Linked DNA regions of Homo sapiens: region 2 is linked to region 1. A link means that fine-mapping ties the variant in region 1 to the expression of a gene that starts in the linked region. Tissue or cell type: whole blood. Region 1 holds a variant in brackets; the other region holds the start of a gene. All regions are shown on one strand. Distances are between the middles of the regions.

Region 1 (4,242 bases):
ATTTACTGAGGGAGTGCTCTTAGGTAAAACCTGTAAGAGAGTGAGGAAAGTAGGTTACAGCAGGGAAAGAATCCTAAAGCAGTTTCAGCTGAAATCCTGCCTTGGCCTGATCCCACAGGGAGCTCTAGGATGTGAGTGGCACCACAGAGTTCGTTTGAGTCAAGAGGGCTGAGCATTTATATCAGTTTGCATACTGCCTCCTGTGGACAAAGGGAATTCTTTTTTTTTTTTTTTTTTTTTTTAAGACAGAGTCTCGCTCTGTCGCCCAGGCTGGAGTGCAGTGGTGCAATCTTGGCTCACTGCAACCTCTGCCTTCCGGGTTCAAGCAATTCTCCTGCCTCAGCCTCCTGAGTAGCTGGGACTACAGGTGCCCGCCACCATGCCCGGTTAATTTTTTGTATTTTTAGTAGAGACGGGGTTTCACCGTGTTAGCCAGGATGGTCTTGATCTCCTGACCTCGTGATCCACCCGCCTTGGCCTCCCAAAGTGCTGGGATTACAGGCGTGAGCCACCGCGTCCAGCCGACAAAGGGAATTCTTACGAAGCCATTAGCCAACATTCTCAGCAGTTGGGGTAAGAGGCAACTGGGCAGGGCACCTCCAGGGCCTACTACAAGGCTTTGTAACATCTGGTATATTTCTCCCCTATGTTCACTGTATTACGTGTTGAGAGCATAGCATATTTACTTTTTCTAGTTATATTGTTAGCATTTCCTAATGTCATTTTTTTCTATATGTCATATTTACTGGCTATACTAATATCTTTAATTTATTTAGCTATTCTCCTGTTGATAGATGGATCATTTTAAAGTTTGCTATTGTAAATAATGCTAGAATAATTGTCATTAGTCTTGATGTATTATTTTCATAAATTGTTAGATTCAGTTTGATCAAATTTTGGTAATTTTGCATTTATATTCATGAGAGAGATTGGCCTGTAGTTTTCTTTTAATGTAATGGCTTTGCCTGGTTTTGGTATCAGGGTAAAGCTGGTTACAGAAAATTAGTTTGGGAGTTAAATTTAGTCAGGTTATTTCTTTCTCCTTTACTAAGCTTTGGCAATTTGTGTCTTTGAAGAAATTTCTCCATGTCTTCTAGGTTATGAAATTTGTTGTCAGAAATTTATTTACAATATTCCTTTATTACCTTTTAATGACCATAAGATCTAGAGTGATGACCCCTCTTTTATTCCTGATATTGTTATTTAATTTCTTCTCTCTTCTTGATCAGTCTGGCTAGGAGTTCATAATTGTATTTATCTTTTCAAAGAAAAAGATGGACACTTAGACTATGGACTTAAGACTTTTATTTTCTTCTAATATAAGTAATTAATGCTATAAATTTCTCTCTAAGCACTATTGCTGCATCCCACAGATTTTGATGTGTCGTATTTTTAATTTTATCCTATGAAAATATTTTCTAATTTCTTTTTGTTATTTCTTATTTGAGCTATGGGTTATTTAGAAGTGTGTTATTTATTTTCATGTATTTAAGGATTTTCCAGATGGCTTGCTATTTGATTTCTAGAATAATTCCACTGTGGTCAGAAAACATACTCTGTATTATTTGAATTCTTTTTTATTTATTTAGCCCATTGAGACTTCCACTTTTTTTTTTTTTTTTTTTTTTGGCCCAGAATATGAGCTATAATTGTGACGGGTTCTGCTGTTGTTGGGTATAAGCATTCTGTAAACATCAACTAGGTCATGTTTGTTGATAGTGTTGTTCAAGTCATTTATGTGCTTGCTGATTTTTGCCAACTTGTTCTATCAATTCCCAATAGAAGAGTATTAAAATATCCAAATATAATTGTGAGTTTGTCTATTTTTTAAATTTTATCAGTTTTTGCTTCATGTATTTTGGAACTTTGTTACTGGATGAATACATGTTAAGGATTATTGTGATGTCTTAATTAATTGACTTCTTTATAATTATGTAATGTTCCTTTTCATCTCCAGTAATAGTCCTTGTTCTAAAGCTGACTTTGCTTGATATTAATATAGTCACTATAGTTTTCTTTTTGTTAATGTTTACATAGTCATTTTTTATCATCCATTTCTTTCAATCTAGCTGTGTTGTTTTACTTAAAGTGGGTTCTTTACAGATAATATATAATTTGTCTTGTCTTTTAATCCACACTGATAATTTCCCTTTTAATTGGAGTGTTTAGACGATTTATGTTTGATGTAATAATTGATATGGTTTTAAAATGTCATGCTGCTGTTTGTTTTCTATTTGTCTTATCTGTTCTTTGTTTCTTTCTTCCTCTTTTACCCCCTTTTCTAACTTTATTTTTTTATGATCTCATTTTATCTCCACCATTGGTTTATTAGCTGTGCTTCTTTAGTTTTGTTGTTGTTATTGCTTATTTTTAGTGACTGCTCTAGAATTTTTTTTTAGACAGAGTATTGTTCTTGTTGCCCAGGCTGGAGTGCAGTCGTGTGATCTCAGCTCACTGCAACCTCCGCCTCCCAGGTTCAAGCAATTCTCCTGCCTTAGTCTCCTGAGTAGCTGGGATTACAGGCACCTGCCACCACGCCCAGCTAATTTTTGTACTTTTAGTAGAGACGGGGTTTCGCCATGTTGGC[C/T]AGGCTCGTCTCAAACTCCTGACCTCAGATGATCCATCTGCCTTGGCCTCCCAGATTGCTGGGATTACAGGCATGAGCCACTGTGCTGGCTTCTAGAATTTATCTTTAGCTTATCATAGTCTACCTTCAACTCTGCATATGGTATGAGATTCTTTCATTTATCTCCTCTTTAGTCCTTGGTAGTATTATTGTCATTGGCTTTATCGCTGCATGTGCTAAAACTCCTACAATTAAAGAATGAGAAAAAAAGGTTTTTATGTATATCCTCATATTTTCCATTTCCTGTTTTTTACTCCTTTGTTAGATCCAAATTCTCCACTGACATCAGTTTCCTTCTGCCTGAAGAATTTCCTTTAGCATGTCTTGCAGTGGAGGTCTACTGACTTTTGTTTGTATGAAAAAGTCTTTATTTTGTCTTTGTTGTGAAAGATATTTTTGGTGGGAATATAATTCTACATTGACCGTTGTTTTTTCTTTCAGTCCTTTAAGATGTCACTTCATTGTCTCCTGGCTTGCATAGTTTCTTACAAGAAATACGCTCTAATGCTACCTTGTTTCTTGACACGTAAAGGGGTTTCTTTTCTCTGGCTGCTTTTTATTACTGTTTTTCACCAAGTTAACTATAATGTGCTTTTATGTATTTTTCTTTATGTTTATTCCATTTGAGTTTTGTTGAGATTCTAAGGTCTATACATTTACCACTTTTCATAAATTTTGGAAATTTCAACTATTATTTATTAGTTCTTCAAATATTTGTTTTCCTTCTCTCCTCTACTCTTAGAACTGCATTTACTATATTTTAGACAACTTGATATTTCCCCAAATGTCATGGAGCCCTCACTCCCTTCCTTCCTACCTTCCTCCCTTCCTCCTTCCCTTCCTTCCTTCCTTCCTTCCTTCCCTCTTTCTCTCTTTCTTTTTCTTTCTTTCTTCAGAGTCTCATTCTGTTGCCCAGGCTGGACTGGTGTGGTCATAGGTCACTGCAGCCTGTAACTTTCGGACTCAAGCAATCCTCCCACTTTAGCCTCCCCAGTAGCTGGGATTATAGGTGCATGCCACCATGCCCAGCTAATTTTTTCATTTTTTGTAGATATAGAGTCTTACTATGTTCCCAGGCTGGTCTCAAGCTACTGGACTGAAGCAATCCTCCTGCCTTGGCCTCCCAAAGCACTGACATTACAGGCATGAGTTACAGAGCCCAGCCTATTAATTTTTTAAAAATATTTTTTTCTCCCTGTGCTTCATTTTGGGTAATTTTTGTTGTTGGGTCTTTATGTTCACTAATTTTTTATTTTATAGTATTAGTCTGCTGTTACTTTTATTCAGTGTATTTTTTATTTAGAATATATTTTCATATCTAGATGTTCCACTTGAGTCTGTTAAAAAATATCTTCCATTTCTCTTGTTGTTATATTCATGTTTTGCTTTACATTTTCAAGCACATGGCACATACCTCTAATAACTGGTTCAGGTCTTTTCTAATTCCATAATCTCTGTCATCTCTAATTTTGTTCATATTGATTGATTATTAGCCTGACTATGGGTCATATTTTTCTCTTCTTCTTGCCTGGTAACTTTTTACTAGGTGACAGCCATTGTAGATATAATTTTGTTTGTTTTTTGTTGTTGTTGTTTATGGGTGCCAGATTTTGTTG
Region 2 (4,242 bases), 80 kb before region 1:
TTTGCCACTTCCCGCCCCCCACCCCGACCTCCGACCGATTCGCAGCACCCCACCCCCAGTCGGGGCCATCCATCCACCTGATTAACTCGCCGGCAGCAACTCCCAGCGTAGAAAGTAGGGCAAATGAACACACACAGTCGGTAAAGCAGGAAGCCACAGACCTGGCCAATGCACCCACCCTGTTACCAACCCCACCCCGCTGCGCAGGGGGCAGCCGGTTCTTGATGTGGCATTTCCACTCCAGGGAAATAGACAGCTTCCTGTAATAATGCATGAATGAGCTTTGGCTGCCCAACTATCAGAACAGCCCATTTCAAACGGCATCTCTGTTTCTTCTCAACTCCTTACTTGCCTTGCTGAAACCTCATCTCTTAGCCCAACAGATTAAGACGAAGAGAGAAAGACTTATTCAAAGAGATGTGGAGGAAAAGGTTTAATTAAGGAGACCAAAGAGAAAGTACCACTTTGATCACAAAGGTAGCACTTTAATATATCAGTGCAGATAGCGGCAATGTCAGAAGTACTAGGAATCCAGGTAAATGGCCCCAAGATTCAGCATCAATCTAACAATGTATTCCTCAGGAGGGCGTGTGAACTTCCATGCTTCATCCATCCTGGTGTCTCCCTGTAGAGAGCCACCATGAATTCCTTCTCATCCACCCTCCATACATCAAGTATATGCACTCGCTTTCTTTTTAATTTTATTTTTGGTTCGGGAGAGGAAGAAGCAGTCCTTAAATTGGTGTCCAATCCTTCTCAGACACCCGCTGCTGCCACCATCCCCACCCCTCACCCCCTTCCAGGCAGGCAGCATCTAATTAAAATGGCAAGAAAGCTCTGCCCCCTTCCCCAAAGGAGTGTGTTGGGATCGGGAGTTGGGGGTGGGGAAGCGTCGAAGCAGCACTTGGATTCCTGGTATTCTGATCTCAAAACAACAGCAAAATGGATTCTATATCAGTGATGTCTTAGTCAATACAATGAAACGGCGTCTGAGGTAATTCACGTGAAGGTAAACGCAAACCAGTGGGGCTGGGGGGAGGGAGGTGCTCTACAAAGGACTGGCCACAGACACGGGGAAAACACACACAGACACACACACACACACACTCGCACACACTCCAGGGAGTTCCGGTCTGATTGAGGAAAAGCAGAAAACACATCCCTTTCACCTGCTTAAGTTCAGCCATAAAACTGAAACGTTACAGCCACAAAGTCAGAAAGAACAGGCAGGGCTGAGTTAAAGCCATAAATAAAGGTGAGTGGCAGACTGGCATTTAAGGGAGCGCTGAGAGGGCGCCCGGGCGCGGGAGGTAGAAAAGGGGGAGGGGGAGGCAGTTGCCATCTACAAGACCAGCATAGCAATAACTGCCCCCTTGGAGCGGCAGGTTCGGCTTCGCGGGGACAGCCAGCCTCACAATGTCATCTTGCAGGTAGCTGGAAAACGTGAGGGGCCAGTGCCTTTATTCACGCTGGCATTCTTTTTGCAGAAGGGACAGTCGGGTCTCGCGCCTTGGCACCAGACAACTGCCCGGGGCGTGTACACACACACACACACACACACACACACGCACACACGCCTTTCATTTTAATGCTCTTACACCGGTATAAGATGAAACTGGCATAAGCTCTACGAGCCCTCGGGAGAGCCTAAGCCACGGCCAGAGGAAGACACGTACCGCACAGCCCCTGCCGTAGGGGCTCAGCCAGGAGCACCTCAGCAACCCCGAATCAAAACGGGAATCCAGGTTCCCTCCCCGACGCATTCTCCCGCTGCTGTCCCCCTGCCCCAGCCCCAGCCCCCAGTCCACGCACCGAGCCCATTCACCCTAACCCAAACCACTGGAAAGAAACCAGAAAACGTCCTGCTCACCCTCAGAGCCGAGAGATCTATTTCATCCAGGCTTCGAGCCGGGGAGTCGCTCGCCATGTCTACTTCTTCGCTGGAGAAATGGACCAAAACCACCCCGAAGCTTTTCCCTTGGAAATTCCACCTTGGTCTATTTCACTCGCGTCCTCATGCGGGTGTCGCGCCAGAGGCCCCGGGCCCAGCCTCCCCCGCCCACCCCAGCCCCACAGCGCCGGATCCCGATCCTCCGCGCGTCGGTCCGCCGGGTCCGGGAGCCCAGCCTGCGCGGATCTCCAAGCCCCGAGCAGCGGTGCGTGTGGGCTGAGCGCCCCGATCGGCTAAGGGCGCTGGGGCTGCGTGGGTGTATTTAAATGGGACATGCTTCTTTGCTTGTGCGTGGATGGCGGCTGCATTGGCTGTTATAATGAGACACATCAACTCCTCCACTCAGCAGGGGGAGGGTGGGGGTGGAGAACCACGCAGAACTGTCTATCACCGCTTCCTGGGAGGAGTGAAGGGGGAGTGGGGAGGCGGAGGAGGCGTGGTCTTGGACTGGGGAGAGGCCGCGCTTCCTGACCCGGTCCCTCTGCACCAGCGTGGAGGGGGGAGGGGCGCGCACCCTTTCCGCCCAGGCTTTTGCGGGCTCCTCGGGCCGAACCCGAAGGGGCTGTTCCTGAACCTTGACTTGTTATCATAGGGACCCAAGCTCTATTTTTGTGTGGCCAATTCGTGCACTGCAGCAAAATGGCCCTTCAGTCGCGTCTTGGGGTTTCTCCTCGGTTCAAATGCTCTCGCGCTGAGAAAAAGCCGGAGGAAAAAAAAGCGACACCCTCCCTCCCCCATTAATTATTTGTGGGGCCGGAGTAACGCGGGCTGGTGCAACCGGTGCATATAAGGACTTGTGTGCAAGGAAGGGGATCCGCCTCCAGGCGCGGAAAGAGTAGGGAAGAAGCGCACACGCACAGTGCACCCAGCTGGGCGCTTCGGCAGTTTGCAGCTGCGGCGGGGTCGGGTCCACCCGCGGTCCCCGGAATGCCGGACGGCTGATCCCGGGTGCTGGTCACTCGCCGATTCGGGGCTGGGAAGGTTTGCCAGAAGCGGGAAAGATGGGAGATCTGAGCGCTCTCTTGGCATCGCCACACCCAGGACTTGCTCGTGCCGCAATTCCCCACGGAAACAACCGAGTTGAAACGAGAAGCTTGCTCTCTGGGTGCAGTAGCTAGAAGGCTTCAGGTAACTCCAAAGCCAACACTGGGTGAGGCAACACACGCCGCCTCAGGACTCAGCATTTCTTTCAGGCTGCGTTTTCGTGGCAGACCTACCCAGATTGATGGAGAAAGTTTGGCTGGCGGATAAGAAGTAACGCGGAAGATGTGTACGTGAGAGCGATTTCACTTCACTCACTTTCTCATTTAAAGGTTGGATGTTTTACAGTGGTATACATGATTCTCCTTCTGTAATCAAGAGTGGGAAGTCGCTTCCCCCAATCCCCGCGCAGCCCTTCTTCTCCCGCCTTAGCCATGCAAAATACCTAGAAAGAAAACACTAAAACTGAACTTTTTTCCAAATACAGCAGTAGCTTTGAAAGCATTCTTTGCTCCTCTGTTAACAGCAGAATGTAATTCTGACCACTGCACTGATGGTTTCTTAATCATGCAGTATGAAGATCAGCTTCAAAATAAGTCTTATGAATGAATGAATGAAAGCCAGTGCAGTTAGTTCATCATGACTGCAGACATTAGAGGACTTTGAAACAACCTTTGGTGTACATTGTACTGTTTTTGTTACTGATATTGTATGTATTCATATGCATTGTGGATCATGCACCATGAAACTTGAAAATTGTTCCAACATCTCAATGGCCACAACAGTTTGGTAGCTTTTGCCTGTAAACGTTGTATGTAAACATTTGAACGTGTTATACTAAATTACTAAACTCATTTTTTACTAAAATCATCTGGTTCGACATAGTAAGTAACGTGCAGTAAGCCACCACGTCGAAATGAAAAAAAAAAAACAGATTATTTCCCATCATTGTCTTTGTTTTTTTCTCTTCTGTGTTCCTGTTTTTTTACCGTTCATCTAGACAACAGGTTAATGTATTGTCTCAGGGTTGAAAGAAGATAATTTAAGATCAAGTATTAAGATCTATAAACAACTATTTTTTTAAAACTGCAAACATAAGGAAATATGAGTTAAATATTTTTTCCATGGAAAGCCTTCGTTTTATACTCATGATTATATTTGAAACATCACAAACAGATCAACTTTTTTGACATTAGTGAGCTGTTTGGGCCACGAGGGTGCCAAGTTGGCATTCAGATTTAGTTTAGTTTTAGATGAGAAAGTTATAGATGCAGTATGATGCCAGGTGCTAAATGGAGGAGGGCTTCCTA

What was found. PIP is the estimated chance that this variant, and not a neighbour inherited with it, causes the effect.
Region 2: it holds the start of TNIK, and the variant in region 1 is fine-mapped to the expression of TNIK in whole blood (INTERVAL, PIP 0.96).

What each region holds. Positions count from the first base shown.
Region 1 is chr3:171,538,485-171,542,726 of GRCh38, forward strand. No RefSeq gene overlaps it. Among named protein-coding and RNA genes, the nearest start is that of TNIK, 80 kb to the left of the region's middle. The variant C/T (reference allele first, on the strand shown) is at 2,588.
Region 2 is chr3:171,458,137-171,462,378 of GRCh38, forward strand. It overlaps TNIK (TRAF2 and NCK interacting kinase), which reads right to left and starts at 2,269. Exons shown (of 33, transcript NM_015028.4): 1 at 1,871-2,269. The coding sequence starts at 1,927. It overlaps LOC102724479 (a long non-coding RNA gene), which reads left to right and starts at 1,082. Exons shown (of 3, transcript NR_189068.1): 1 at 1,082-1,255. LOC124906303 (a long non-coding RNA gene) reads right to left here and starts at 35. Exons shown (of 2, transcript XR_007096168.1): 1 at 1-35. RefSeq lists a silencer at 1,899-1,958 and an enhancer at 2,970-3,470.